7 linked regions of the Homo sapiens genome follow. The protein of the gene in region 1 purifies or fractionates together with the protein of each later gene. This does not show direct contact. Each region holds a gene or a part of one and is shown in the gene's direction. Other genes may lie near its edges. The genes, in order: UBE2V2, MYO5B, RAI14, MYO1E, ZFYVE19, NMNAT2 and USP34.

Evidence for each region.
Region 2: the proteins of UBE2V2 (region 1) and MYO5B purify together in Homo sapiens (affinity purification with mass spectrometry; one large-scale study listed by BioGRID and IntAct). This does not show direct contact.
Region 3: the proteins of UBE2V2 (region 1) and RAI14 purify together in Homo sapiens (affinity purification with mass spectrometry; one large-scale study listed by BioGRID and IntAct). This does not show direct contact.
Region 4: the proteins of UBE2V2 (region 1) and MYO1E purify together in Homo sapiens (affinity purification with mass spectrometry; one large-scale study listed by BioGRID and IntAct). This does not show direct contact.
Region 5: the proteins of UBE2V2 (region 1) and ZFYVE19 fractionate together in Homo sapiens (co-fractionation; one large-scale study listed by BioGRID). This does not show direct contact.
Region 6: the proteins of UBE2V2 (region 1) and NMNAT2 purify together in Homo sapiens (co-immunoprecipitation; one large-scale study listed by IntAct). This does not show direct contact.
Region 7: the proteins of UBE2V2 (region 1) and USP34 fractionate together in Homo sapiens (co-fractionation; one large-scale study listed by BioGRID). This does not show direct contact.

The regions. Positions count from the first base shown.
Region 1 is NC_000008.11:48,039,227-48,043,510, forward strand, and holds part of UBE2V2 (ubiquitin-conjugating enzyme E2 variant 2), read left to right. Parts: intron 1-3,806; coding exon 3,807-3,955; intron 3,956-4,284. UniProt on the Homo sapiens protein: Has no ubiquitin ligase activity on its own. The UBE2V2/UBE2N heterodimer catalyzes the synthesis of non-canonical poly-ubiquitin chains that are linked through 'Lys-63'. This type of poly-ubiquitination does not lead to protein degradation by the proteasome.
Region 2 is NC_000018.10:50,184,962-50,189,245, reverse strand, and holds part of MYO5B (unconventional myosin-Vb), read left to right. Parts: intron 1-4,284. UniProt on the Homo sapiens protein: May be involved in vesicular trafficking via its association with the CART complex. The CART complex is necessary for efficient transferrin receptor recycling but not for EGFR degradation.
Region 3 is NC_000005.10:34,829,689-34,833,365, forward strand, and holds the end of RAI14 (ankycorbin), read left to right. Parts: intron 1-43; coding exon 44-109; intron 110-999; coding exon 1,000-1,077; 3' UTR 1,078-2,924; downstream 2,925-3,677. UniProt on the Homo sapiens protein: Plays a role in actin regulation at the ectoplasmic specialization, a type of cell junction specific to testis. Important for establishment of sperm polarity and normal spermatid adhesion.
Region 4 is NC_000015.10:59,362,591-59,366,874, reverse strand, and holds part of MYO1E (unconventional myosin-Ie), read left to right. Parts: intron 1-4,284. UniProt on the Homo sapiens protein: Actin-based motor molecule with ATPase activity. Unconventional myosins serve in intracellular movements. Their highly divergent tails bind to membranous compartments, which are then moved relative to actin filaments.
Region 5 is NC_000015.10:40,809,898-40,813,429, forward strand, and holds part of ZFYVE19 (abscission/NoCut checkpoint regulator), read left to right. Parts: coding exon 1-73; intron 74-173; coding exon 174-319; intron 320-490; coding exon of another isoform or gene 491-573; exon of another isoform or gene 574-574; intron 575-751; coding exon 752-860; intron 861-2,801; coding exon 2,802-3,005; intron 3,006-3,440; coding exon 3,441-3,520; intron 3,521-3,532. UniProt on the Homo sapiens protein: Key regulator of abscission step in cytokinesis: part of the cytokinesis checkpoint, a process required to delay abscission to prevent both premature resolution of intercellular chromosome bridges and accumulation of DNA damage.
Region 6 is NC_000001.11:183,292,535-183,296,818, reverse strand, and holds part of NMNAT2 (nicotinamide/nicotinic acid mononucleotide adenylyltransferase 2), read left to right. Parts: intron 1-3,025; coding exon 3,026-3,114; intron 3,115-3,961; coding exon 3,962-4,029; intron 4,030-4,284.
Region 7 is NC_000002.12:61,191,244-61,195,527, reverse strand, and holds part of USP34 (ubiquitin carboxyl-terminal hydrolase 34), read left to right. Parts: intron 1-2,547; coding exon 2,548-2,627; intron 2,628-4,284. UniProt on the Homo sapiens protein: Ubiquitin hydrolase that can remove conjugated ubiquitin from AXIN1 and AXIN2, thereby acting as a regulator of Wnt signaling pathway.

The DNA.
Region 1 (4,284 bases):
CACTAACACCTTTATACTTTTTGCTACATATGTATATATGTATAAAAACTATGTTTATTTATAGCTTCTATACCAGTTTATTCTAATCTCAGCAGTGAATGAACTTCCAATATCTACACGTTTGCCCAGATCAAGAATTATCAGACTTAGTATTTGTCAGTTTGGTGGCTAGAATAAGCCGTTATGATTCCCTGATTACTGATGAGGTTGAACATATTTTTATGTTTGTTGGTCATTACTGTTTTCTGTAAACCTTATTCCTAATATGTTCTCATTGTTCTCTAGGGTTTTCTTTTCCTTGTTGATTTCTAGGAGGAATTATTTCTGTATTTTGAATAACGTTCTTGTCTTCTATATGTTATTCACATCCTTTTTCAGTCTGTGGCTTATCTTTTCATTTAATCTGCCTATAATTGATTTTTATGTATACTATGAGATCAGATTGGGTTCTAATTTTATTTTTTCATATTGGTAAAGTGTTCCAACACCATTAACTTTTCCTACTTTTTTTTTCCTTCTCTTTTGAGACAGGGTTTCACTCTGTGGCCCAGGCTGGAGTGCAGTGGTGTGATCACAGATCACTGCAGTCTTGACCTCCCTGGGCTCAGGTGATCCCCACCTTCTGAATAGCTGGGACCACAGGCATGTGCCAGCTACCACACCTGGCTAATTTTTGTATTTTTTGTAGAGATGGGGTCTTGCCATGTTGCCCAGGCTGGTTTCCAACTCCTGGGCTCAGTTGATTGGCCTACCTTTGCCTCCCAAAATGCTGGGTTTACAAGTGTGAGCCGCCACCATGCCCAGCCTTTTCTACTTTTTTTTTTTTTTTTCTTTTGAAATAACTTCAGATTTGCAGAAAAGTTAACATAAGTAGTACGAAGGATTCCCATATACCTTCATGCAGATCCATCAAATGTTGATGTTTAACATTTTTGCTTGCTCTTGTGTGTACTCTCTCTTCCCCCCTCCCTTCACATTCGATTTTGTTTTTTGGGGGAACCATTCAAGGGTAAGTTAACAGATACTGTCTCTTCACCCCTACATTCTTCAACTAGGACATTTTCTTACAATAGAATTATCAAAATCAGGAAATTAATGTTGATAGAGGACTATTATCTACCAGCCCTATTCAGATTTCACCACTACTGTTCTTTAAAGCAAAATAATGATAATAATATTTTTCCTGATACCAAGATTGCATTTGGTTGTCATGCCTCTATTCTCTTTACTGACTTTTAGTGTTGCCTCTACTAAGAAGCACATTTTCATATATGATATGTCTGCTTTGGGGCTTTTCTTTTTCATTAGTCTGTCCATTTCTGTACTGATTCCATATTTTCTTAATGATTTCTTTAGCTGATGAGGAAGTCTTAAAATCTAGGAAAGTGTCCCCTCTGTTTTTTCTTTTTTTGTTTTGTTTTTGTTTTTGAGACAGTCTCGCTCTGTCTCCCGGGCAGGGGCTTGATCTCGGCTCACTTCAGCCTCCACCTCCTGGGTTCAAGCGATTCTGCAGCAGCCTTCCAAGTAGCTGGTTGGGATTACAGGTGTGCACCAGCATGCCTGGCTTATTTTTGTATTTTTAGTAGAGATGGGGTTTCATCATGTTGGCCAGGCTGGGTTTTTTTTTTTTTTTTTTTTTTGTGTGTGTGTGTGTGTGAGACAGAGTCTCACTCTGTCACCCAGGCTGGAGTGCAGTGGTGCGATCTCGGCTCACTGCAAGCTCTGCCTCCTGGGTTCACACCATTCTCCTGCCTCAGCCTCCCGAGTAGCTGGGACTACAGGCGCCCGCCACCACGCCTGGCTAATTTTTTGTATTTTTACTAGAGACAGGGTTTCACCGTGTTAGCCAGGATGGTCTCGATCTCCTGACCTCGTGATCTGCCCACCTCGGCCTCCCAAAGTGCTGGGATTACAGGCGTGAGCCACTGTGCCCGGCCTTTTTTGTTGTTTTTTTTTTTTTTTTAAGACAGAGTCTCGCTCTGTCGTCTAGGCTGGAGTGCAGTGGTGCGATCTCGGCTCACTGCAGCCTCCGCCTCTGGAACATTAAATGTTCCAGACCAGTCTGGCCAACACGGTGAAACTCCATCTTTACTAAAAATACAAAAATTAGCCGGGCATGGTGTTGCACGCCTGTAATCCCAGCTATTTGAGAGGCTGAGGCAGGAGAATAGCTTGAACCTGGGAGGTGGAGGTTGGCTCGGCTACAGAGCGAGACTCTGTCTCACACACACAAAATAACACAGCAGGTGTATGAGGAACATTAAATGTCTTTCCTAACTTACTGTATGCAAATAAAAGTAGATACTTAAGAAATTGTCTAAAAATATTTAGTAAACCCATTTCTACACAGACAAATTAAAAGTTCTGAGAAATCAGGCTAAAATCACCTCAAATTTATAAGGTTTGATTAATAAATATTTACCTTTGCATATACACGAAAGCAAAAAAAGGTAGGAATACTTTCAATTTCAGATAACAATAAATTGAAATCAAGTACAAATTTTGACTCCCCTTCCTAAACTGAATAAACTCTTAAAAAGCAGACACACTTTACTTGTGTAAACACTCTTCTTTTTTTTTTTTTTAAATGGAATTTCTCTCTTGTTGCCCAGGCTGGTGTGCAATGGTGTGATCTTGGCTCACCGCAACCTCCACCTCCCGGGTTCAAGCGATTCTCCTGCCTCAGCCTCCCGAGTAGCTGGGATTCCAGGCATGTGCCACCATGCCCGGCTAATTTCGTATTTCTAATAGAGATGGGGTTCCTCCATGTTGGTCAGGCTGGTCACGAACTCCCAATCTCAGGTGATCTGCCTGCCTCGGCCTCCCAAAGTGCTGGGATTACAGGCCCAGCCGTATCCACTCTTTTAAATTTAGGCATCCATGTCACTGGAATTATGTTTTTCACAGGATCACTTTTAAATTCATTAAGAAGTTTCTTTATGTATATAAGCCTATTCATTTTACTTGAAAGGTTTTCTGTCTTCCCAAAGTCAAATCCTTACTAACTAAAATTAGGAATTTTGAAAAACCATCCATGAAAATCTCACAAACACATTAAAAAATGTATTATCTAAGGTGCATAAAATTAAACTCCATATTACCAATAGCATTTAAGAAACTCATATAAAATGATAATGTTTTCTTTAAAGAGACATACTGAAAGCCAAGTCAGTTGTTCACAGGAGGTGGTTTTGCACCATTATTTGAACTTTGATGTGTGAATTTGCTTTAGAAGTCCATGGTCTGTTTACTCTCTGACAGATTCTGTTTTCACATGCCCCTCACATGAAGGTTCACTCCTCATTCTTTTTTTTTTTTTTTTGAGACAGGTTGGGTGGGACTGCTTCAGGATTCTAAAAGACAGTACCTTCTGGTGCACTTTCTAAGATGGAACATAATTCTACTCTTTGAAAATCATTAGAGAGTATATATTAATGAACTTTGGCTTCTATGAACTTTCTGGGCATGCCTGTTTGATTGGTGCAGAGTCCTTGGCTGTAACAGAAACATCAAATAGGGAAAACGATTTCCTTATGGTTGATTGACTTACATCAGTATAAAATTGATGAGGAATTTATATACACGTTGTATACTGCTGTTAATGTTTGGTACAGTGCTTTCTTTAGTGTTTTCATTTTGAGGGGTTATTAGATTCAGCATTTTCTGGAGCAGAATGCTTTTTAAAGGGGATTTGGTCTTTTTGGGAAATAATTTATAAAGGTTAATTTGGAAAAAGCTGAATTTAAATACGTGTAGCTCTTATAATTATGAGCTTTTTACATTTACACTGACGTTCTTTTGTATAGGAGTTAAAGTTCCTCGTAATTTTCGCTTGTTGGAAGAACTTGAAGAAGGACAAAAAGGAGTAGGCGACGGTACAGTTAGCTGGGGCCTTGAAGATGATGAAGATATGACACTTACAAGGTGGACAGGCATGATTATTGGGCCACCAAGGGTCAGTGTTATAAATTATATTTTTTCTATTAATACTTATTGTTAAAGTTAGCATTTAATTTTATACTATTGATATTAAAATAAGCAATTATGATAACTTCTAAAATAGTTCCTTTTTATTTTGTTTACATTTATTGATGCTTCCCACGTGCAGGATATAATGCTCGATTACGTAGAGGATTGGGGGGAGGAAGGTTGATATGGTCATTGCCATCAAAGTTTTGCAGTTTAGTAAGGGAGAAAAAATCAGTACAAATGACAGATTCTAAATATGACAGAGCAAGTTCACTACGGGACTTTAGAATATGTTTCTTCTAGCTGGAATAATTG
Region 2 (4,284 bases), on another chromosome or scaffold:
AGTCTCTTGAGCAGGAATCCTTGTCTCAGGATCAGATTCTAGGAGCCCAAGTTAACCATAACTCATGGTGGCTTAGCTTAGTGGATGTTGAGAATCTCAAGGGCTTTGGCCCCTCTATGGTCCCAGGAAAGGCTGAAAAGAAGCATGGAGGTTGTGTGTCATGCTGTCACTTTCCTTCTGAGGCTCATTCTCTGTCTTGCATGTGGTTTTTTTCTTCTCTCATCCCTAGTTCCAATTCCGTTGATCCTCTGCTCCCCGTTTTCAGATGGGCCTATAAGCCCAGTGGATCCTGCTTCACCATGTTGGCGATCATCAGAATTTTGAAGTTTGTACTTGTGACTTGTGGATGTGGCATATTCCAATGGCCTGTAACCTGTAATCATTGAGCAGGCTCTTGCCCTGCCCTCCTTTGTTGATAGGTGTGTGTGTTTTTTTTTTTTTTTTTTTTTTTTTTTTTTTTATGACAGAGTCTCACTGTGTCACCAGTCTAGAGTGCAGTGGAACGATCTCAGCTCACTGCAACCTCTGCCTCCTGGGTTCGAGTGATTCTGCGGCCTCAGCCTCCTGAGTATCTGGGACTACAGGTGTGTGCCACCACTCCCGGCTACTTTTTGTATTTTTAGTAGAGACGGGGTTTTACCATGTTGGCCAGGATGGTCTCAATCTCTTGACCTCATGATCTACCCACCTCAGCCTTGTTGATAGTTTTTATGTGATGCTTTATCTAAGTAGGCTGAGATTCTGGAGAACAGAGGCCATACCAGATGTTTTTAGGAGCCTTCAGTGTGTTTGGTGATAAAAGCTAAATACACAAAGTACACTAACAATACAGGATTATCTGTGTGTCATTAGAGGAGTGCACATACTCCTCTACAAGTTACAGGCATTTTGTAGAAGTGTTGGTCTGGTGGGCTACAGTATTGCGGGAAAGGCTTCCTTTAAGGTGTAGTGGGACATGACTGGGGCCTAAAGAATGAATAGGATTTGAAATGCATGAGGAGGCTGTAAAGAAGGATGTTCTCTCAGGAGGAGACAGGGGAGAGTGAGTTTAAGCATAGGGACAGGTATGAGCTAGATGTATATGGGGATAATTATAGCACTATTTTTAACTATTTTGAAATATACACTTACAGAAACATTGCAAAAATAGTGCAGTTTCTATATTTTTCCAGATTGCTCCAGTGTTAACATGTCATATAACCATAGTGCAATTATTGAAACCAGGAGGTTAACATTTCTGTAATACTACTAACTGGTCTATAAAGCTCACCGGAATTTTACCACCTTTTTCACTAATGTTCTTTTTCTGGGCCAGGATCCTGTTTAGGGTTCCACATTGCCTTTAGGGTTGTAGCTCCCTGCCCCCCTCTAGTGACAGTTGCTCAGTTTTTTGTCTTTCATGACCTTGACACTTGAAGAACATTGGTCAAGCCAGGCACAGTCACTCACACCTGTAATCCTAGCACTTTGGGAGGCCAAGATGGGAGGATCCCTTAAACCCAGGAGTTCGAGACTAGCCTGGACAACATAGCGAGACCTCATCTCTACAAAAAATAGAAAAAATTAGCTGGGTGTGATGGCATGCACCTGTGGTCCTAGCTACTCTGGAGGCCGAGGTGGGAGGATTGCTTGAGCCTGGGAGTTGAGGTAGCAGTGAGCTGTGATTGTGCCACTGCACTCCAGGCTGGGTGACAGAGTGAGACCCTGTCTGCCCACCGCCCACCCCCCCAAAAAAAGCATTTCTCAATAATTTTGTAGAATGATTTTGGGTTTGTCAGACTGTCTTATGCTTACATGGAGGTTGTGACTTTTGGGCAAGAACACATCATAAATGCTGTGCCTTTCTCACTGCATCACCTCAGGAGACAGTGATATCAATGTGTCCTGTTACTGACGGATCACTTTGATCCCTTGGTTAAGCTGATGCCTGTCAGTTTCCTTTTATTGAAGAATGGAATTTAGAAATGAAGATCTGGTTGCTAGGTGTACTCATTACTACTTTTTGTAGTTATGTAGAAATTACAGAGACTAGAACTCAATAAATGTTTTATTAAGGGCAAGGGAAGTAGAAGAGTCAACTATGAACTTGAAATATCCACCTTGAGTGTGGACAGAAGTCAGGTTGGAGCAGGGATAATTCTTGATTTTTGACATGTTGGGTTTGGGATGAAAATGGTTTGTCTAAGTGAAAGCATTTATTTACATTTGGAGATTTACGAAAGAGCTTAGAGGAGAAATGTCAGGATCTGGGGTTCTTGCAAATGATGCCTGGGATTTGCTTTTCTTTAATGAAGAAATGCAGTTGTCTGATAGCATGGTGTTAATAAGGGTAAGATCAGGAGCTTGGTATGGGCATTTCCAAGGCCTTTGTGACTATGATCTTGAGGTGGACACCCTGGATATTGTGGCGCTCTCAGCTCCGACACATTGGAACAGATACTTTCTAAGCCTTGATTTCTTTATCTGAAGAATTGGGGTGGTACCTGCACCATGGGAAGGTTACTGGAGGCTTATAATCCTAATCCATGTGAAGTGCTTGTCTAACATAGTGTTGGCAACTGTTCATTAGTTTGCTTCTCCCTCCAGTCACCATGCTGGGTGGCAGTCAGCATTATGTGGCTAGCATGTTTTTTCCCCTAACCCTTCCCTGCTGTCCTGAAGGGGTCTTGATCACAAGGAGACTTGGTGAAAGAGGAAGTAGGATTGCTACAAACATGAACTATGAGAGCGGTAGACAAGATATGGTACTCCCCACCACCCCTGGGGAAGGAGCAAGAGCAGTCTGAAAGAAGTTTTAAGTTTAACCTGTGCTTTCTGGTCTCTTATTATAGCTTTAAAGGAAAATTAAAAAGCATTTTTCACAATGCTTCTGTTTTCCCTCTGTGAATACAAATGATTATTGAAACAATCCATACAATGCAGGAAAGACAAAAGCTCTGTAGTCTCATTCCCAGAAACAGCTGCTCTTGACCACTTAGGCATGTTCTCTGGACCTCCGTTGTCCAACAGGGTAACTGCATGTGGCTGCTGAGCACTTGCGATGAGGCTGGCCCAGCTTGGGATGAGCTGGAAGCGTGCAGTACTGTACACACTGGGTTTCCAAGACTTAGAAAAATGTATGCGAAATATCCTTCATACTTCTTATATTGGTTATGTGTTGAAGTGATTGTTATTTATATATTGGCTAAAATATTCTGTTCAATTCACCTTTTAAATGTGGTTATTAGAAAATTTAAAGTACCACAGGTGGCTCACAGTTGTAGTTTGCATTCTGTTTCTCTTGGGCAGTGCTGCTTTAGACTTATGCACAATATGTACTCAAAACAAATGGGATCATGCCATGTCTATTACTCTAAATCTTAATCTATGGCTATCTTTTCCTGTAGCCTACAAAGGCAATTTTGCCATTTTTAATGGCTGCACAAGGCAGCATATGGATGTACTGTAATTTTTTCTTAAAAATATACATTTTTTAAATTGCCAAGATCTGATGCCATATACTGTAATGTGTTTAACCATTCCCATGCTGATGAGCATTTAGGTTGGTTCCAATTATTTTCCTTTTGTTTTTTGTTGACAGTAATAATTGCACAAATTTATGGGGTTCAAGTGATTTTTTTAATACACGTATACAATGTATAATGATTAAATCGGGCAATTAGGTTATCCACCACCTCAAACATTTATCATTTCTTTGCATTAGAAACATTCAAGATCCTATCTTCTAGCTTTTTTGAACATACTAATAAATTGTTAATCTTTTGATACTGTGAAAGATTGTTCTTGTAACCTCATTTATTTTCTCAGAATAAATTCCTAAAGCTGGAATTGCTGGCATGCACATTTATAGTCTTCATTGATATGGCCAATAGCCACCACAAGAGAACCAGTCTGTTTCTTCGCCACTCTAAGTTCGGGTCATTGTTCTTTCTCTCTCTCTCTCTTTTTTTTTTTTTAAATTCTTATTCATACTAAATGTTTTACACATGTTTTAAAGTTGACTTTCATTGGAGGGTTGAGCCTCTGTTCACATGCTTGGTAGGCTCTACATTATTGATCACTGGGAACAATGTGTTGTTTTCCTTATATTTCTTGTTTGTATTAACTGGCATTATTTATAACTGTTTTTGCTCATTTAAATGACTACTCTATATTTTTTATTTTTTTGAGACAGGGTCTCATTCTGTCACCCAGGCTGGAGTGTGTGTGGTGGTGCAATCATGGCTCACTACAGCCTCAATCTCCTAGGCTCAAGCAATCCTCCCACCTCAGCCTCCCAAGTAG
Region 3 (3,677 bases), on another chromosome or scaffold:
GATCTCTTAAGCTCATTAATAATGTGAAATATTCCCTTTCTAGGAATGCAAGAAACAACACCAGGAGGTCATATCAGTTTACAGAATGCATCTTCTGTATGCTGTGCAGGTATGGTTATGCCCCTTGAAGTATCTGGACATCCTAAAGAAATACGGCAGCAGATGTTGACAGAACTCCCATCATTTAACTAGGAGAATGAACAAGAATTAGAGGAGAATCCTTTTCACTGGAAAGCCTGAATATGCCTTTTGCATTGCTTTGGATTCTGTGTCAGGAGCCTTGTGCCCTGTTTACCAGGAACAGCCCCATCTTTTAAAGCAGGGCCTCACTCTGTCATGCAGGCTGGAGTGTAATGGCATAATCTCGCCTCACTGCAGCCTCGACCCACGGGCTCAAGTGATCCTCCCACCTTAGCCTCCCAAGTAGGTGGGATTACAGGTACCCACCACCGTACCTGGCAAATTTTTGTATTTTTGTAGAGATGGGGCTTTGCCATGTTGCCCAGGCTGGTCTCAAACTCCTGAGCTCAAGCAATCCACCCGCTTCGGCCTCCCAAAGTGCTGAGATTACACGCATGAGCCACCATGCCCCACCCTCCCATCATTTATTGAGGAATGAGGGATGATGTGGTCCTCCACTGGGAAGACGGGGGCTTTATTTTCCAGCAATGCTGATCTTCTTAGTTACCAGTGCTGCCTTGGCTCTATGATGCTTGGTGTTCTGGCTGCTGGACTCACATTTGCAACTGAGACCCCAGATAGCTTTTGCTGAGGGTTTTGGTAGACACTGCCACCTCATCTTCCAGCTGGATAAAGGCAGGGCCCTTTCTTTGACTCAGTTCCTCATAGAAATTTGGGAAATGATAGGGCTGACATTCCTGTGAAAGATGTGGGAATTAGCCCAGGTCTTCATTGCAGTCAGCCATCTCATTCCCCAGAGAAGAAAGTGCCATGGCTTAATTTAGGTTCTAATGAGTATCTTGTGTTTGAATATCCTAGGGCCAGATGGATGAAGATGTCCAGAAAGTACTGAAGCAAATCCTTACCATGTGTAAAAACCAGTCTCAAAAGAAGTAAAGTGGATTCCTTGGCAGGACACTGCCCCTTGTCATCTGTCTTTGTGTTAGATCCAGAGTTGTCGGCAGCCGCTGCCATTGTTCTCATTCGTGGTATGCACTGTGGCCTAGCGTAGCTTCTTCCCTTTCCAAAGGTTTCTGAGGACTTCTCCCAGGAGAAGACTGCCCGCCTCAGAACTGCTTAGAGACTTCAAACCAGCAGAGGTGAAAGTCCCTGTCATCCCTTCAGATTCCAGAGCTGGGATCAGCCATGCCCAGAGGTCTGGTCCTGATGCTGGCAGGGGGGCCCCCTCCTCCATCCCTGACTGGCTGAGTGGCTTTATCACCACCGAGTGATGTGCTGAGGCCTCCTGCAGTGAATGCTCCTTCCATTCCTGTACTCGGGCAGTGCCATTCAGCACAGGAGAGCTCTTTTTGCCTTTGGCTTTCAATTCCAAAACATGATTTAATTTCTAACTAAATTAGTATGGCACTAGTTATGAAGTATCTGCTTAAAACCCTTCATCATGATATCCTGTGGATTTAAAAACTCTAATTCCATGTTTTCTTCCCATCTGCCTTATATATCTCATCACCCTGCTTATCAATATTCAGTTTGATGAGCACTATTAACTAAAATATGAAACTTAAAAACAAAAGCAAGTTGTCCTTAAAAGTTCTTTTTTTAAGTAAATTGTTGACATACTGCAAATTTTCTATGCAAACTTGCCTCCTGCTGTTATCTGTGAAGCTCAGGAAATCCAAACATTTGTGTTTCAACAAGGGACAGTAAACTGTGTGTTTACAGCCAAAAGAAATGCCTCATAGTTCTTAACCTCAACTTTTGTAGAAGTATTTTTTTCTCTGTAATATTTTTATTGGCTCATAAAGATGTTTTCATATCTGAACTCCTAAATAAGTGAAATTACAGTAGATTATATTAACAAAATACTTTTTAGGTAGCCATGCTTGAGACTTTTTAAAAATATAACTTTTTCCTTAAAGTTTTCAGCTATAGCAAAAGGTAGTTATGTATGCCAGACCTAATATGAGCTGCCACCAACACCCCTAGAACTTTCAGCCATGGTGTCTTCAGAATTGTAGCGCATTTCTGAATCTAGCAAATCCTCCTTTTACCCGTTGAATGTTTTGAATGCCCTGACTCTACCAGCGCCCATAAATGATCTCTAGAAGGACTGTTAGTACCAATCTGTTTTTCAACTTTGAAGCTAAAAACCCTGATATGGTAATATTATGGTGCATAGCAGAGGTCTCGGAAAAAAAATATTTCTGTTCACTTTACTTTCAGGTTAAAAATGTTTCTAACACGCTTGCAACTTCCCTTATGGCATTAATCTTGTTGAGGGAGAGAGACAGAATCCTGGACTCTCCAAAGTATTTAACTGAAAGTAGGGCCTGCTCTGACAGGGCCCATGTCCCACAAGGCTGCTTGGCCTCAGTGGGTGCTTGGCTGTGCTGGATGATATGTTGATCTGTATTGGATAAGGACCAATGACAGCAAAGCAAAAATGGCTTTAAAGCTTGGTGTTACTTTTCTTAAGTTGTTTAATTATAGTTAAGCAATTTCAAAAATGCTCCAAAGAAATGTGAAAGGACCTTTTGTCACAGCACTTCAGAAAATACACAACAGCCCCTTCTGCCCCCGCACAGAAATGCTGCAGAGTATATAAAACTTGAGACATTTTTGTAGGATGCCTGACGAGGTGTAGCCTTTTATCTTGTTTCCGGATGCATATTTATTACGAGTACTCTGGTTAAATATTGAAAAGTTATATGCTGTAGTTTTTAGTATTTTGTCTTTGTAATTTACAGAAGTTATTGGAGAAAATAAACTTGTTTCATTTTGCATTTCTGGTGTTGATTTTTGGTGTATTCAGAAGCATATCTGCGTGGCTTCTGAAGATCAGTTCAATAGCATTTCAGTGTAATAGGTTTTCTAGTCTGTGCTATGCTCAGCTGGTATGAGTTGTCCGCACTGTCTCACACAAAGTCTCACATCATTTCCTTTTCCCAGCTCTTGGATTCGCCCTGAGCTCTGCCCTGAGTATCAGCCGCTTTGGGGCAGTTGAATCACAGTTGCCTTTAATTCACAATTGCCTCTCATTTAATCTGCAGTCTGTTTAACTGTTTGGAAGCCTCCGCTGGATTTTTTTTCCCTCTTGCTTCTTGCTTTTTTTGAAAAAGTAATACATACATATGTAAAAAAAAAATCCAGATACATTTTCCTGCCCCATTACAAAGACAATTCAATTAATTCCTGACAAAACTCTTGTCAGGTGAATTCTGGCAAGGTTAAAATCATAATTAAAATTGTTGCAGGTTATAATCATAATCAAAATTACATGAAATAGGTACAGCTACTTAAGAAGTTAGCATTGTTTATCATACTCCAATGTAACAAGGCCATTTCCCTTCACTTACAACATGATTCCACCTCTACTTCAGTTTCATTGTGCCTTCCTACTATACCCTGAAACTTTATTTCAAAGAAAGCATGTGTGTGATACTCAACTGAACCTTTTATTTCAACTGTGGCCAACCAGACAACTCAGAAGGTGACTTCATGGGGACACTCAGCTGGAGAGGAAACTGAGATAAACC
Region 4 (4,284 bases), on another chromosome or scaffold:
GTTAAAGGTTAAATGCCAAAGGTATTAAAATAAACATCTCAGCCTTATAAGCACATTCTGTAATAGTGGTAAACAAATTGTGTTTTGAATTTCAGTTTCAGAATTTATGTTGGCAGAGACAAAAGGTTTTGGGGCATCCTAGCAAAGTATTTTTTTCATATATCTTTGGGACAGCCACACTTAAGAGAAGTACAACTGTAAAAGCCAGCCCTAACATAGTGACATGAACTTTGACAACCCATAGAACTCAAACTGTACATGTGAATGAAGTTGGCCCGCCCTTCTGAGTTACCACCATGAGAATGACGTCATTGCCGTTGTTCAAAGCACTTTTGAATGGTCATTTATGAGCTATGTAATAAAACCTATTTTTTTGCCGGGTGTGGTCGTTCAGGCCTTTACCAAAAAAAATTTTAAAAATTAGCCACGTGTGGTGTCATGCACTATAGTCCCAGCTACTTGGGAGGCTGAGGTGGGAGGATTTCTTGAACTGAGGAGTTCAAGTATGCAGTGAGCTGTAACTGTGGCACTGCAGCCTGGGTGAGAGTGAGAGAGAGAGAGAGAAAGAGAGAGAGAGAAAAAAAAGAAAGAGACAGGGCTGGGCCCTGTGGTTCACGCCTGTAATCCCAGCACTTTGGGGGGCCGAGGTGGGCAGATCACCTGAGGTCAGGAGTTTGAGACCAGCTTGGCCAACCTGGTGAAACCCCGTCTCTACTAAAAATACAAAAGTAGCCAGGTGTGGTGGTGCATGCCTGTAATCGCAGCTACTTGGGAGGCTGAGGCAGAGAGAATCACTTGAACTTGGGAGGCGGAGGTTGCAGTGAGCCTAGATCACGCCATTGCACTCCAGCCTGGGCAACAAGAGTGAAACTCTGTCTCAAAAGAGAGAAAGAAGGGAAGAAGAGGGAAGGAGGGAGGGCCTTATTTTTTATTTTTTAACTCCTTAGTGCCCAGTGTGATCATTCCTATTACTCACCAGACTTTGTATTACATCCCTCTCAGGTGTTTCCAGAAGTTACATTGTGCCTCAAAGGCGGAACAATTAGCCCCACTAAAGATATGCAGTATCCAGCAGGTCCCTTTTTCCTGGAATAAGTATAAGAACTGCTCTGAAGGAGGCACACTCTCTTGGGTCTTTTGAGCTCTGATAATGTTTGTTACAAATTCATTTATAGCACTTTATGGTCATACGTTACATTATAGAAAGTAAAACATAGGCTACATTGTAGAAAGCCCAGAAGAGAGCTTAAAAATTCTATCCTAAATCCATTTGTTAACTTCACAGAGAGATCTAGAGAGGTTAAATTACTTCCAAAGTCTCATAGCTAGTTTTTAGCTGAGCTGGTGCCAGAATCCAAGTTAGATCTGATCCAGTGCAGATCTAACCTTATTAGATCCCAGTCTAATAAGGTTTTTCTTACCAAACAGTGGTGGGAATAATTCTTTAAGAGTCTGGACGTGACCAGATAGTTTTCTTTCTGGGACTTTTCAAGAAAGTCTGCTTGTAGGTGGAAGGTTACTGTACTAACTTCATTATAAGAAATTTAGAAGAATTCAGCCGGGCGCGGTGGCTAACGCCCGTAATCCCAGCACTTTGGAAGGCTGAGGTGGAGGGATCACCTGAGGTCAGAAGTCCGAGACCAGCCTGGCCAACATGGTGAAACCCTGTCTCTACTAAAAATAAAAAATTAGCCGAGTGTGGTGGCAGGCACCTGTAATCTCAGCTACTTGGGAGGCTGAGGCAGGAGAACTGCTTGAACCTGGGAGGCCGAGGTTGCAGTGAGCCGAGATCACACCATTGCACTACAGCCTGGGGCACATCTCAAAAAAGAAAAAAAAAAAGAAAAAGAAATTTAGAATAATTCACCCAAAGTACCCCCACACCCTAACACAGTAATTATTTTTGTCTCTGGGTTTCCTTTCAGTCTGTTCAAATGCATTGTTTCTTTGTTTGTTTGTTTTTCTTGAGATGGAGTCTCACTCTGTCGCCCAGGCTGGAGTGCAGTGGCATAATCTCGGCTCACTGTAACCTCCTTCTGCCTCCCAGTTTCAAGCGATTCTCCTGCCTCAACCTCCTGAGTAGCTGGGATTATAGGTACACACTACCATGCCCGGCCAACTGTTTTATTTTTAGTAGGGACAGGGTTTCACCATGTTGGCCAGGCTGGTCTTGAACTCCTGGCCTCAAGTGACCCACCTTGACCTCCCAAAGTGCTGGGATTATAGGCATGAGCCACCACACCGGGCCTCAAACACATTGTTTTTATGTGGTTGTAATTATGGGGCAAATATACAATTTGTGTTCTGTTATTTTTCCACTTGTTTTACAAATCCTTTTTCTTGATAAGCATATTTGTTATATTTTGGTGGCAGTATTATAATCCCATGTAGCCGGATTACTCACTGTGTGTCATAACTGTATGGAGACTTCCTCCAGAAGTGTGTACAGGGGAGAGTTCCTCCTTCCACCCACTAGAACCGCTGTGGTCAGTAATGGGCTGCTTAATCTTTGGCTCCTGAGATAAGAAGCCCCCTCTTTGGGTGAGCTTGGGATGCATACTCCACATTCCCAGGTTCTAGCCCAAAGGTACCTACCATTGGTGCTCCCCCTGGATTCTGGCGTTGACACTCAAATATGTGACACCAGTGGGTACTCAGACCTCTAGGTCTTCCTTGGCAAATATGAGTGGTCTTACCAGAGAACGGGAGTGGATGGAGATGGAGAGCTTTGAACCTCAAAGTGGAGAGAAGACATTGCCATGGCAAAGGAGGTTAGCATACAGGCTTGGTGAATTAGAGCTGGGCATGGTGGCTCAGGCCTGTTATCCCAGCACTTTGGGAGGCCGAGGAGGGCAGATCACTTGAGGTCAGGAGTTCGAGACCAGCCTGGCCAACATGTCAAAACCCCCGTCTCTACTAAAAATACAAAAAAATTAGCTGGGTGGGGTGGCGGGCACCTGTAATCCCAGCTACTCGGGAGGCTGAGGCAGGAGAATCGCTTGAAATGGGAGGCAGAGGTTGTGGTGAACCAAGATCTTGCCACTGCACTCCAGTCTGGGCGACAGAGCAAGATTCCGTCTCCAAAAAGATGAATTAGTCTCTCTGCCTCTGCTTATGAGAAGCTCCCCATATAGTGGAGAAATGATAACAAAAGGCTTCCATATACATGATTTCATTTCATTCTAGCACCAGTGTTGGTTTTTATTGCCATTTTACAGGTAAGAAAATCAAAGTGTAGTGAGGGGAGGGGAATTACTTAGGGCCACACAATTTGTATGTGACCAGCCAGATCTGCTAAGTCCATGCTCTTTGAAAAGTGGTTCAATAAATTATTTCTAAATTTGACAATGCCGAGTCCACGTATTTGTATACTTTTTCATTATTTCACATACTCCTGAGGGAAGGTAAGGCTGATAGAAAATCACCAATTTTGGTTGATTTTATTCAGTAATACCAGAGGGGATAATTTAGACTTAAGAACATTGTCTGTTATGAGTAGTAGTGTTCTGAGTTTTAATTTCCTTGCTTTGGGACTTTGCCATAGAGACTAGAAGATGTCATAGTGAGAGCAAGCATAAAAGTAAAAGAAAGTAATACTGGCCGGGCATGGTGGCTCACGCCTGTAATCCCAGCACCTTGGGAGGCCGAGGCGGGTGGATCACGAGGTCAGGAGATCGAGACCATCCTGGCTAACATGGTGAAACCCCGTCTCTACTAACAATGCAAAAAAAATTAGCCAGGCATGGTGGTGGGCACCAGTAGTCCCAGCTACTCAGGAGGCTGAGGTGGGAGAATGGCGTGAGCCTGGGAGGCGGAGCTTGCAGTGAGCCGAGATCGTGCCACTGCATTCCAGCCTGGGTGACACAGCGAGACTCCGTCTCAAAAAAAAAAAAAAAAAGAAAGTCATACTAGAAGGCTCTCTAATCTTAACTAGGATTAAAAAAAATAGAAAATAGGAAAATGTGAGAACAACAGAGATTTAGTTGTTTAATTCTTAAATACATTACAGAATACAACAACAAAATTAGAATATCACATTGTTAGTCTCCTAATAATTTCTTCGGTGTGACCACCATTTGATGTTGACAGCAATTTAGGATAACATTACATGGTCACAGAATATTTTGGACAGTATTATCTGATTCTAAGAAATTTTCAATGAAAAAATAATAGGGCTGTTTTTGGTGTCCTAGGAAGATGCAGACCTTATAGAAAATTTTAGATTTAAATGCAGAAGAATCTAATAAGCTATTTTAAGAATGTAAGTAAAGATAGCTTCCTTCA
Region 5 (3,532 bases), on another chromosome or scaffold:
AGCCAGGGACTGACACGACAAGACCAGATGATTGCTGAGCGCCTAGCACGACTCCGCCAGGAGAACAAGCCCAGTGAGCAGGGGCAGATGGGGTTGCCTAGAGGACACAGTCCAGGGCTTCTGGGACTGAGATGCCTCTGGCCCTTACAAGGCTCCCCCCATGCCAATTGCAGAGTTAGTCCCCTCACAGGCAGAGATAGAGGCACGGCTGGCTGCCCTAAAGGATGAACGTCAGGGTTCCATCCCTTCCACCCAGGAAATGGAGGCACGACTTGCAGCGTTGCAGGGCAGAGTTCTACCTTCTCAAACCCCCCAGCCGGTGAGTGTTATGGCTTAGGAGAGAAGCGGGGGTGCTAGCGGGAGGACCCAGCAGAAGCCCAGATACAGGTATTGGGGTGATACAAAAGTAATTGTGGTTTTTGTCATTACTTTTAATTGCAAAAACCTCAGTTACTTTTGCACCAACCTTTGTACTTTATGTACTTTGCAGGAGTTGGCAAAGCCTCCCACCCCTACCTCCTGATCCTCAGGCCTGCTACCAGACCCGGGGACCAGGGACAAACAGCACGATAGGGTAGGGCAGGAAAAAGTGGCCCCTCAGTCCTGTTGGGGACGGCCAGACCTACTTGATTATGTGGGCCCTGGATCCCTCTCCTTTCCCTGGGCTTTGAGAACTACTTAGCATCCATCCCTGACCTAGACTGCTTCTGGGCTACCCCTGCTCTCCACTGAGGTTTCCTCGTCTGTGCAGGCACATCACACACCGGACACCAGGACCCAAGCCCAGCAGACACAGGATCTGCTAACGCAGCTGGCAGCTGAGGTGGCTATCGATGAAAGCTGGAAAGGAGGAGGCCCAGGTAACCCCTCCACTTGGCTCCCTAGGAATCTGCCCTACCTCTTTCCCCAGACTGGAGAGGCTCTGCTGTCCACCCTCTGGGAGATGAATATAAATCGGAGAGTGATCAACGTTATAAGAGTTACCATTCATTGAGTGCTTACTCCAAAGGGAGCCAGTGTAAGCCTAGTGTTTAAGTGCACGGGCTTTAGAATCAGACAGTGATTCCCATTTCTACCACGTATTAGCTGTGTGATGCTGGACAAGTTACTTGACCTAAGTCTCACTTTCCTCATGTGTAAAATGAAGGTATGTATGGAAAAACCTACCTCACAGGGAAATCAGGAGGAGTAAACGAGATAATCCAATAAGTGCTTGGGAACATACCTGACTCATAGTGAGTACTCAGTGAATATTCTCTGCAATCATGATGTTGATAAGGAGGAAGAAGCTATTTAGTAAAACCAGCCACATCTCAATGCTCAGTAGCCATATGGGCTTCATGGCTACCATCTTGGACAGCACAGATATAGAACATGATATGGAATGTTTCCATCATCATAGAACATTCTGTTGGACAGTGCTGTTTGAAGGCTTCAGAGCAGTGGTTTTCAACAAAGGATGATTTTGCCCCCAGGCTACTTGTGGCAACATTTAGAGACTTTTTGGTTGTCACAACCCAGAGGATATTACTGGCACCTACAGGATAGAAGCCAGGGATGCTACTAAATCTACTATGTCACAGGACAGCACATCATGATGAAGAATTACCCGGTCCAAAGTGTCAAGAGAACTAAGATTGAGAAGTCCTGCTTTAGAGGCACAATCTCATTGAATATCCTCAATAATCTTATGAGGCCAGGTGTGGCTCACGCCTGTAATCCTAAGCACTTAAGGAGGCAGAGGCAGGAGGGAGGATAGCTTGAGCTGGGGAATTTAAGACCTGCCTGGGCAACATAGCAAGACTCTGTTTAAAAAAAAAATCTTATAAGGTACATACTATTCTTTTTTATAAATGAGGAAACAGGCCTGGTGAGCTTGAGGAACTTGACCAAGGTCACACAGCTATTAAGCTGCAGAGATGAGACTTAAACCTAAAGCTGTGATTTTAAACCTCTTGCTCTGAAACACTAAACTGAAGGTGACTGTGTCAGAGCCACACCTAATCTGGTAAAATTCTTCCTGCCCAGTGATATACAAGCTCTTAGCTTCCTTCATTGCCCTCTCTGTGCTAATCCCAGGAGATGCTAATTCCTGCCCTGAAAGGCAAAGAGATCGGCTGAACCTGGGCCTTATCATGTCTTGATCCTTTAGGGCAGTGATTCTCAAACCATAGGACGCCCACCCTTAGGGCAGAATGTTAAAATATCAGGTAGATGGGGATGGATGTGGTTGGAAAAGACATGGGTAAAATTATTAGTTTTTTACATTTGGAAAAATGGAGGAATACTAATTTTATTTGTGATAGAAACCATAGGCGCTAGTGCTGAGCAAAAAGCTGATGATCTGTGATTAGAAAGGGTTGAGAAAAGCTGGGCATGATGGCTCACGCCTGTAATCCCAGCACTTTGGGAGGCTGAGGCGGGTGGATCACGAGGTCAGGAGTTGGAGACCAGCCTGACCAACATGTTGAAACCCCGTCTCTACTAAAAATACAAAAATTAGCCGGGCATGGTGTCACGTGCCTGTAATCCCAGTTACTCAGGAGGCTGAGGCAGGAGAATCGCTTGAATCCAGGAGGCAGAGGTTGCAGTGAGCTGAGATTGCACCACTGCACTCCGGCCTGGGTGACAGAGCGAGACTCCATCTCAAAAAAAAAAAAAAAGAAAGAAAGAAAGAAAGAAAGAAAGAAAGAAAAAATTATTAAAGAAAAAGAAAAGAAAAGGTTGAGAAATGGGCTCATTGGCTTCTGAGGAGAGATACTGGGATGTCTCGGCCTTGCTGATGGCATTACCCCTTCCAGCTGCCTCTCTCCAGAATGATCTCAACCAGGGTGGCCCAGGGAGCACTAATTCCAAGAGGCAGGCCAACTGGTCCTTGGAGGAGGAGAAGAGCAGACTGCTGGCTGAGGCAGCACTTGAGTTGCGGGAGGAGAACACGAGGCAGGAACGGATTCTGGCCCTGGCCAAGCGACTAGCCATGCTGCGGGGACAGGACCCCGAGAGAGGTGAAGGCTGGGGAGCAGCTGCTCACTGGTATCCCTTGGTCAAGGCCTCCCTGGCAGGGCTGAGTCAGGTGCTGGGGGTATTTGCGCCCAGAGATCTACTGAGCCCAGCCCAGAGCCACAAGGAAGGTGGTAGAGCAAAGCAGTGGGTGAGGAGTCAGGGGCAGCCATGAGGGCAGGGGACCTTCAGTCCATTCAGGGGCTGAGGCTTTCGCTCCAGCCCCCAACCTAGCCCTCAGGCCTGCTTCAGTGATGGCCCAGCCCTGCAGGGCTGGGGCAGGCAGGGACAGGTCATCAGGGTGGCTGAAGAGGCTTCTCAGCTCTGGAATAAGTGCCCCTGGGAACCGAACCAGTTCTGGGAGGCAGGAGGGCAGCCACTCATGTGAAATCTCTCACTCTCACTCCCCCATCCCCTGTTCCCATGTCTCCCTCTTCAAGTGACCCTCCAGGACTATCGCCTCCCAGACAGTGATGACGACGAGGATGAGGAGACAGCCATCCAAAGAGTCCTGCAGCAGGTGGGCCTGGAT
Region 6 (4,284 bases), on another chromosome or scaffold:
TATGGGGCTGGGTGCGGTGGCTCATGCCTGTAATCCCAGCACTTTGGGAGGCTGAGGTGGTCAGATCACCTGAGGTCAGGAGTTCAAGACCAGCCTGGCTAACATGGTGAAACCCCATCTCTACTAAAAAATAAAAAAATTAGCTGGGTATGGTGGTGCACGTCTGTAATCCCAGCTACCTATGAGGCTGAGGCACAAGAATCACTTGAACCCAGGAGGCGGAGGTTGCAGTGAGCCAAGATGATGCCACTGTACTCCAGCCTGGGCAACAGAGCTAGACTCCATCAAAAAAAAAAGCAAATGTGACACACTTATCAGAGTGACACACTTATTAAAATCCAAATAATGCCAAATGCTGGTAAGAATTTGGAGCAACAGAAAGTCTCATTCATTCCTGGTAGGAATATAAAATGGCACAACCACTTTGGAAGACAATTTGACAGCCTCTTAAAAAGCTAAACATAATCTTACCATATGATTCATATGGCTCCTTGTGTAGATTCCCTAATTTACGTCTTCACAAAAACCTGCACATGAATGTCATATCAGCTTTATTTATAATCACTAAAAACTGGAAGCAGCAAAGATGTTCTTTGGTAGATGAATGGATAAACTGAAGTACTTCCAGACAATAGACTATCATTTAGTGATTAAAAGAAATGAGCTGCCGGCCGGGCGCGGTGGCTCACGCCTGTAATCCCAGCACTTTGGGAGGCCGTGGCAGGCGGATCTCCTGAGGTCAGGAGTTTGAGACCAGTTTGGCTAACATAGTGAAACCCCATCTCTACTAAAAATACAAAAAATTAGCTGGGCATGGTGGTAGGCGCCTGTAATCCCAACTACTTGGGAGGCTGAGGCAGGAGAATCGCTTAAGCCCGGGAGGCGGAGGTTGCAGTGAGCTGAGATGGCGCCACTGCACTCCAGCTTAGGGGACAAGAGCGAGACTTCCTCTCAAAGAAAAAGAAAGAAATGAGCTATCGAGCCATGAAAAGACATGGAGGAACTTTAAATGCATACTGCTTAGTGAAAACAGCAAGTCCAAAGAGGGTACATACTGTATGATTCCAACCATATGGCATTTTGGAAACGTCAAATCTATAGAAAAAGTAAACAGAACCGTGGTTGCCAGGGGTTTGGGAAAAGAGGAGGCATGAATGGGTGGAACACTGAATTTTTAGGGGATGAAAATACTGGGTATGATACTATAATGAAGGATACAATTGTCAAAACCCACAGAACTCTACAACACAGAGTAAATCTTAATGTAAACTATTGACTATAGTTAATAATGTGTTAATAATGATTTGTCAAGTATAACAAGTGTGCCACACTAGTGCAAAATTATTAATATAATGGGGGAAACTGCATGAAGGGAGGTAAAAAGGTGGGAGGGGTCTGAATATATGGAAGTCTATGTACAATCTGCTCAATTATTCTGTAAATCTAAAACGGTGTTACAAATAGTCTATTCATTTTTTTTTTAATCTAAGAAATTTCACATTGAAAGAAAAAGAAGCAGCCAAGTGCCGTGGCTCATGCCTGTAACCCTTGCATTTTGGGAGGCCAAGGCAGGCAGATCACTTGAGGCCGGGAGTTTGAGGCCAGCCTGGCCGACACGTGGAACCCGTCTCTACTAAAAATACAAAAATTAGCCAACCATGGTGGCTCATGCCTGTAATCTCAGCTACTTGGGAGGCTGAGGCATGAGAATTGCTTGAACCCAGGAGGTAGAGGTGGCAGTGAGCCAAGATCGCACCACTGCACTGCAGCCTAAGTGACAGCGTGAGACTTTGTCTCAAAAAACAAAGAAAGAAAGAAAAAGAAGCAAATATGGTGAGATCTTTTTTCAAGTGTTAAGAAATCCAGCAAAGTAATTCTGAAAACTTGCTTGTAAACTACACAGCCAGCTTTGCTGCCCAGGCCGCCTTCTACTTAAAAATTCCTTCACTATAAACTCCATGCTAGATTTTTCCTCAGTGGAATAAGCTCAGGCCCTGTTGACAATTTTTGTTTTGTTTTGTTTTGTTTTTAGATGGAGTCTCCCTCTGTCACCCAGGCTGGAGTGCAGTGGCACGATCTCAGCTCACTGCAATCTCTGCTGCCCGGGTTCAAGCGATTCTCCTGCCTCAGTCTCCCGAGTAACTAGGATTACAGGCGCCTGCCACCGCGTCTGGCTAAGTTTTGTATTTTTAGTAGAAAAGGGTTTCACCATGTTGGCCAGGCTGGTCTTGAACTCCTGACCTTGTGATCCACCTGCCTCGGCCTCCCAAAGTACTGGGATTACAGGTGTGAGCCACCACACCCGGCCCCTGTTGACATTCTTAAAAGGAATTGTTTTGGAAGTAAGATAGAACCAGACTTTTCAGTCCCTTCCTTGTTTGCCGAAATTTATTGCGAAAATAAAATTGGGTTTGTCTGATAGATTTGAAAAAGCAATATTGCATACCTTCCAAAGGATAAAAGGCTTTTATCTGGCCAAATTTTTCGTCTCAACCAAGTCTAAGATGGTGGTCTTCTGGGTTGATTGCTAATTCTTTGTAATTATCTACAAGGCCCTTTAAATTTGTTTTGGTGGTTTTTCTCTTCTGAATAATTAGATGAGGCAATCAGCACATCTTTCATATTATAAGGAGGCTTTTATTTATTTATTTTTTAAATACTACTCCTCCACATTATAACTCCTGCAAGTGACAATAGGGGTAAATTCCAATCTGTAGCTCTAATGGCTGCTAATGAGGCGCTTGTTTTAAATCCTTCTGAGCTACACTGGCTCCTCCCACAGAGGACTTTTAAAACAGGATGAATCTCCTTGAGTTCTAAATCCTTTTGCTTTGGGGGCTGAAATCTGGTTCTGTAACCTTTTGAATCACCAACATTTGCTTTGAAAGTTGACATTTTCTATTTAAATGGCAAGAGAGATGGGAAATAAACCCCAGCATTACAGAGCTGAGCGTATTGATTTCAATTATCACCTTTAATCCATGCCTTTCCTCTTTATAATGTGTGGGTTTCTTCTCTTAATTAGAAAGAGCCAGGGATTATCTGCACAAAACTGGAAGGTTTATTGTGATTGGCGGGATTGTCTCCCCTGTCCACGACTCCTATGGAAAACAGGTGGGTTCCTTCCTGTGCCCCTCTCCTCTTCAATCCCCGTCCCCCCATCCCTGGCCTGATAGTTCCTGGCAGAAAAACTGCCCCCGCTCTGTCTCTGCTAAGATTCCTGGAAACACAAAATGCCCAGGTCCATGCGTCTATCCTGCTTCCCATCTCAGGACCACAGTCGGACCTGAGTGGATGGGCGTTGAAGCAGTAGCTGGAAAGACCAGCTGTCCATGACCGTAGAGCCACTTACGGGCTGGTCAGGACTCACTGAAAGAGGAGCAGAAACACCCACTGGGTGTGGCTTGGTATGGTGGATGCCAGATTGGCAGCTGGTTATGGGTTGAGCTGCACTGGGCAAGTCTTCTCAGGATTTTAGGAGAAAACGGCCTATGCCTTTTATAATCTGATTTAAAATTCATATCCCTGCTCATCCCTCCCTGCCACGTGTCCCGGCAAATCTAGGAGCTCCACCCATCATTCCCCCTTTCTCCCACAGATGCACCTTGGTGGGCTCTGGGGAAACTCACCTAACCAGCCAGACTGAGCCATAAGACAAGGCCACATTTGCTGAGTTAAGTCTCATCTCTGCAGGGCACACAGGGGCTGCTTCGCAAATGGAGGCTCATCTATCGACCTTGTTGGGGTGGTATATACCACACACCCTTTATTTGTTTCCTTTCCCACCACCATTCCAGGCCTGCCTGTGTGGCAAACGGACAAGTAAAGGGGTCACATTCTTCATTCCCTCTCACCACTGAAAAATGGCTGCACTTTAACAATGGGTGGGCTTGGGCTGGTATCCCAAGGATGTTGTGGGGAACGGAGGGAGTCTCCCAATGATTGCTCTGTTGCTTCCCAGGGCCTCGTGTCAAGCCGGCACCGTCTCATCATGTGTCAGCTGGCCGTCCAGAATTCTGATTGGATCAGGTAGGACTGGCCTGAAGATGCCAGAGGCAGTGGCCCGGAGACTTACTGGGAGTGGGGTGGGGAAAAAAGAAGAGTTCCAGCAGTAATTTGGATCCTGAAAGGATGGGGAGGCAGGGGCAAGATATTAGCCTTGTGGAGGCAATAAGTAGACCTCCAGGGATACCTATAACTTTATTTTTGAACCAAACTGTGAGGCCCATGAATGTAAAGAATGTGCTTGAATGTTTCATCTGCTTTGACATCTCTGAATCCTGG
Region 7 (4,284 bases), on another chromosome or scaffold:
GCTAATTTTTGTATTTTTAGTAGAAACGGGGTTTCACCATGTTGGTCAGGCTGGTCTCGAACTCCTGACCTCATGATCTGCCTGCCTTGGCCTCCCAAAGTGCTGGGGTTACAGGCATGAGCCACTATGCCCAGCCTGGCTGATTTTTTTTTTTTTTTTTTAACCTTTAAAAATGTAAAAGCCAGCCGGATATGATGGCTCATGCCTGTACTCCCAGCACTTTCAAAGGCCAATGCAAGAGGATGAATTATGCCAGGAGTTTGAGACCAGCCTGGGCAACATGGCAAGACCCCATTTCTACAAAACTTTTTGAGAGAGTTTGCTCTGTCACCCAGACTGGAGTGCAGTTGCATAATCTTGGCTTACTGCAACCTCTGCCTTACGGGTTCAAGCAGTTCTCCTGCCTCAGCCTCCTGAATAGCTGGGATTACAGGTGTGTGCCACCACACCCAGCCAATTTTTGTATTTTTAGTAGAGACGGGGTTTCATTATTCTCCTGCCTCGGCCTCCCAAAGTGCCGGGATTACCAGCGTGAGTCACCATACCTGGCCCAAAACTTTTTTTTTTTTTTTTTTTGACAGAGTTTCACTCTTGTTGTCCAGGCTGGAGTGCAATGGCACGATCTCGGCTCACCGCAACCTCCGCCTGCCGCGTTCAAGCAATTCTCCTGCGTCAGCCTCCCAAGTAGCTGGGATTACAGGGATGTGCCACCACGCCCTGCTAGTTTTGTATTTTTACTAGAGACGGTTTCTCCATGTTGGTCAGGCTGGTTGCGAATTCCTGACCTCAGGTGATCCGCCCACCTTGGCCTCCCAAAGTGTTGGGATTACAGGCATGAGCCACTGCGCCTGGCCCCAAAATATTTTTTTAAGAAAATTGTCCCAGCCTGCAGTCTTAGCTACTACGGAGGCTAAGGTGTAAGGATCACTTGAGCACAGCGGTTCAAGGCTGCCCCTGATCTGTGATCACGCCACTGCACTCCAACCTGGGCAACAGAGTGAAGACACTGTCTGTCTCAAAGAAAAAGCCATTCTTAGCTCACAAGTCCATATAAAAACAGGCCATGGGTCAGATTTGGCCTGAGGGCCATAGTTTGCTAACCCTTCCTCTACTTTGATGAGTAATTAGGATACAGGAACATGGGAACGTAGGAACTCTCTTCCCTATAGCCACAGATGTGATGACATGTCCTTGTTTACCTATGTGTGTGGTGATACCGTGGTGGGTATATGCTGCCAAACACCAACCAGATTAGGTTAGGATAAAGGGGAAGTAGCATTTCCTTGCCTCTTGTGTCTAAAGGGACTCATCTTGACAGGAAAATAAATTGGCTTACCTGTGGAAGGGATCCTAGGCATCCTTGGTAAGTTCTGAGTGAGTGACCTGACTTGCCTGTGTAGGATGTTCTCAAGTCCTTGGTCTAACCCACGGTTTGGCAAATTACAACCCACATGCTGCCTGTTTTTGTATAACCATGGCTACCTGCTAGCTAAGAATAGTTTTCATATTTTTAAATTTTTTTTTAATATAGAATATTTTCTGACATGAAAATTATGAGATTCCCATTTCAGTGTTTGTAAAGTTTTACTGAAAGACAGCCACACCCATTTCCTTACTCTTGTCTAAGGCTGCCTTCACACTGCCTCAGCAGGGTTGAGCTGTGTTAACAGAGCATGGCCACAAAGCCTCAAACACTATTTGGCCCTTCCCAGAACAAGTTTGCTGACTCCTTGTCTAACTCAGTCTTTTCTTAACTGGAAGAGGATGGTCTGTGTTATATTTCTTCTTCTCCATGATTATACTTGCCCTGGGGACCCTAGGGGATGTGGAAGATGGGAAATTCATTTAGGACTGTGGTAATGAAGCTTCTGTACTTTCAGAGATAGGATGACAGAGGATAGGGGCACACATCTTAGTGACATATTTTACATCTGGAATAGTCAAGAAGTGGAGAAGTAAATTCATAGAGGTTCCAAATAGCACTCTCTGACATAGTGCCAGATGCGGTCCACTCAGAAGATCCTGGGAACAAGCCAAGAAACTGGTGTTAAGGGCCGCATTTACTTAAATGTACCACAAAGGTCATTCTATCTTTGAAGAAAGAAGGTAAAAGAGGAAAGATATGTTTAATTCTCCACTTTTTTTTTTTTTTTTTTTTTTTTACCTTTCCCCTCCTCCCTCCTGCAGTCTAGCCACCCTATGAAAATTATCTAATAGGCAGAGTGGTACCTTAATCCAAGAAAGATTTGGAGCCACTTGCAGTAACTTTTTCTTTTCCCAGATAAAGTTCTAATACTCAAAAAAGAAGAGTTGATTTAAGTCCCATATCCTTCAGGAATGAGGTATAGGATATAAATAAATTCAAAGTACCACATTCTAAGATATTTCACTAAACATTGGAATGAATTTTTCCCCTTTATGTACTTTAAAATATAGAAAATATGCAGTTATGACTAGAAATAGCTGTAATATTGTACCTGCAGAGTTGAGTATCTCACTAGTATAATTTATAATTATAACCTATTCTGATTTCTTTTCAAATATTAGGTGTCCTAGTTGCCTATGAAGGTTTGCCACTTCATCTTGCACTGTTCCCCAAACTTTGGACTGAGCTATGCCAGACTCAGGTAAAGAAAATGAGTTTTAGATGATTGGTCTTTAATCTTATCTGACCAAGTGGTCAATAATTTTAGGAACAGTGGGTTGAAGACTTGCTGAAAAGTGGGGACATTTTAGAATCTTGATAGGTAACATATGAATGAATGAAAATACTAGCTATTACATATTAGGCATCTAGTTTCCCTTTGATTTTTTTAACTTAAGTAGATTTCTATCATAGAGGATATTTTAAATAAGCTGGTTATAATTGAATTTCTCATTTATAGATGTATATCAACAGTTGTGGGGAAAATCCAAAACAGGGAGATAGTGGGGGAAAAGGCACTTGCCACTTCTTCCTCTCCTTCACCTCCCTGTCTCTACCTCTTTTCCACCATTCCAAAACCTCTAGCAGAAACCCTGTCAGCAGTCTGTCCTTTAGCTTTTCATAATCTGTAGTTTTTCAGGGGTCTGATGCACTTGTTTTCTTACAGCGATCTCCTTGAAAACAGGAAAGATTACTGTTCCTACCTTAAGTGTCTAAGAGCCAACTCCTTAAAATTAAGTGGCTGCATAAATAATGCTTGTTAAGTTACAAAGGCAGAATTGGGAAGAGGAGGAGGTACTAATGTTTGGCTCATTCCTTGGATCAGGCATAAAGGATCCCCACTACCTTTCAGTCCCTGAAAAAACTGTTGATTGTACTGCCTGGTTGCATCTGCTCTACCCCATTGGAAGAGATGAATTTATTCACCTTCCTTAGGTGCAACCCTTGACCCACATCATGCTTTCCTGAAGTATTTTGAGTCTGGTTCAGCCTCCTACCAGGCTGTAGTGTGCTCTGGATTCTCCTAGATGTTTGCCATCCTGTACTCTACTGGTGGTTTCTCTACTTTTCCAAAACAGAACTCAAGTGTAGAGACCTTATCAGAGTCATCTCCATCCCCTGAAGAAATGCCACGTTGTTCTCTACAGTAGAAATCTTTCAGAGGCTAGTATACACTGATCTTAGCTCACTTGACTTAGCATACAGTAGGCATTCAGAAAATGACTTTTATCAGTTGATTTTTGAGCTGAGTGTTCTGTTCAGTCAATTGGAGATCTCGTTTTCCCTCTCCACTGCTACTGCTGTTCTTTTTCATTCTTCCTGATTTGGGTAGTTTCTTGGTTTCTGTACTCTCCCACTACCTATTGCTCCCTATTGCTTTCTCTACTTCTGCATCGCAGGACTCCCTTCGCTTGACTTCTTTCACAGACAGAACTCACTGTGCCCCCAAATTTCCCTTAAAACAAAGCCTAACCATATAAGGCCTCCAAAGCTTCCAGTGCTATAGAAGCAGCCATCCTGAGCAAGAAACAGAGGCAGAGGCACAGGCTGTGACTGGTAGACCAAGGCAGGTTTTTCCTAGTGTTAAGGATCTCAAGACCTGGGTCTTGGTCCTACTTGAATCCTAATTTCTTGACTGACCTTGAGTAATTTACTTATGACAGCTGCATACTTTAATAAGATATACACATATGCATATATATATATATATAATCTAAATTTTGTCCTATTTAAAAAATATATTGCTTTTTTCCATATAAATTATTAAAATGCACATTTAAATCTATGGAGTGTATCTGCTTAAAGACATACTACTTGTGTTTAAGAGCCATGACTATTTGAAAACAGGAAAACCAAAT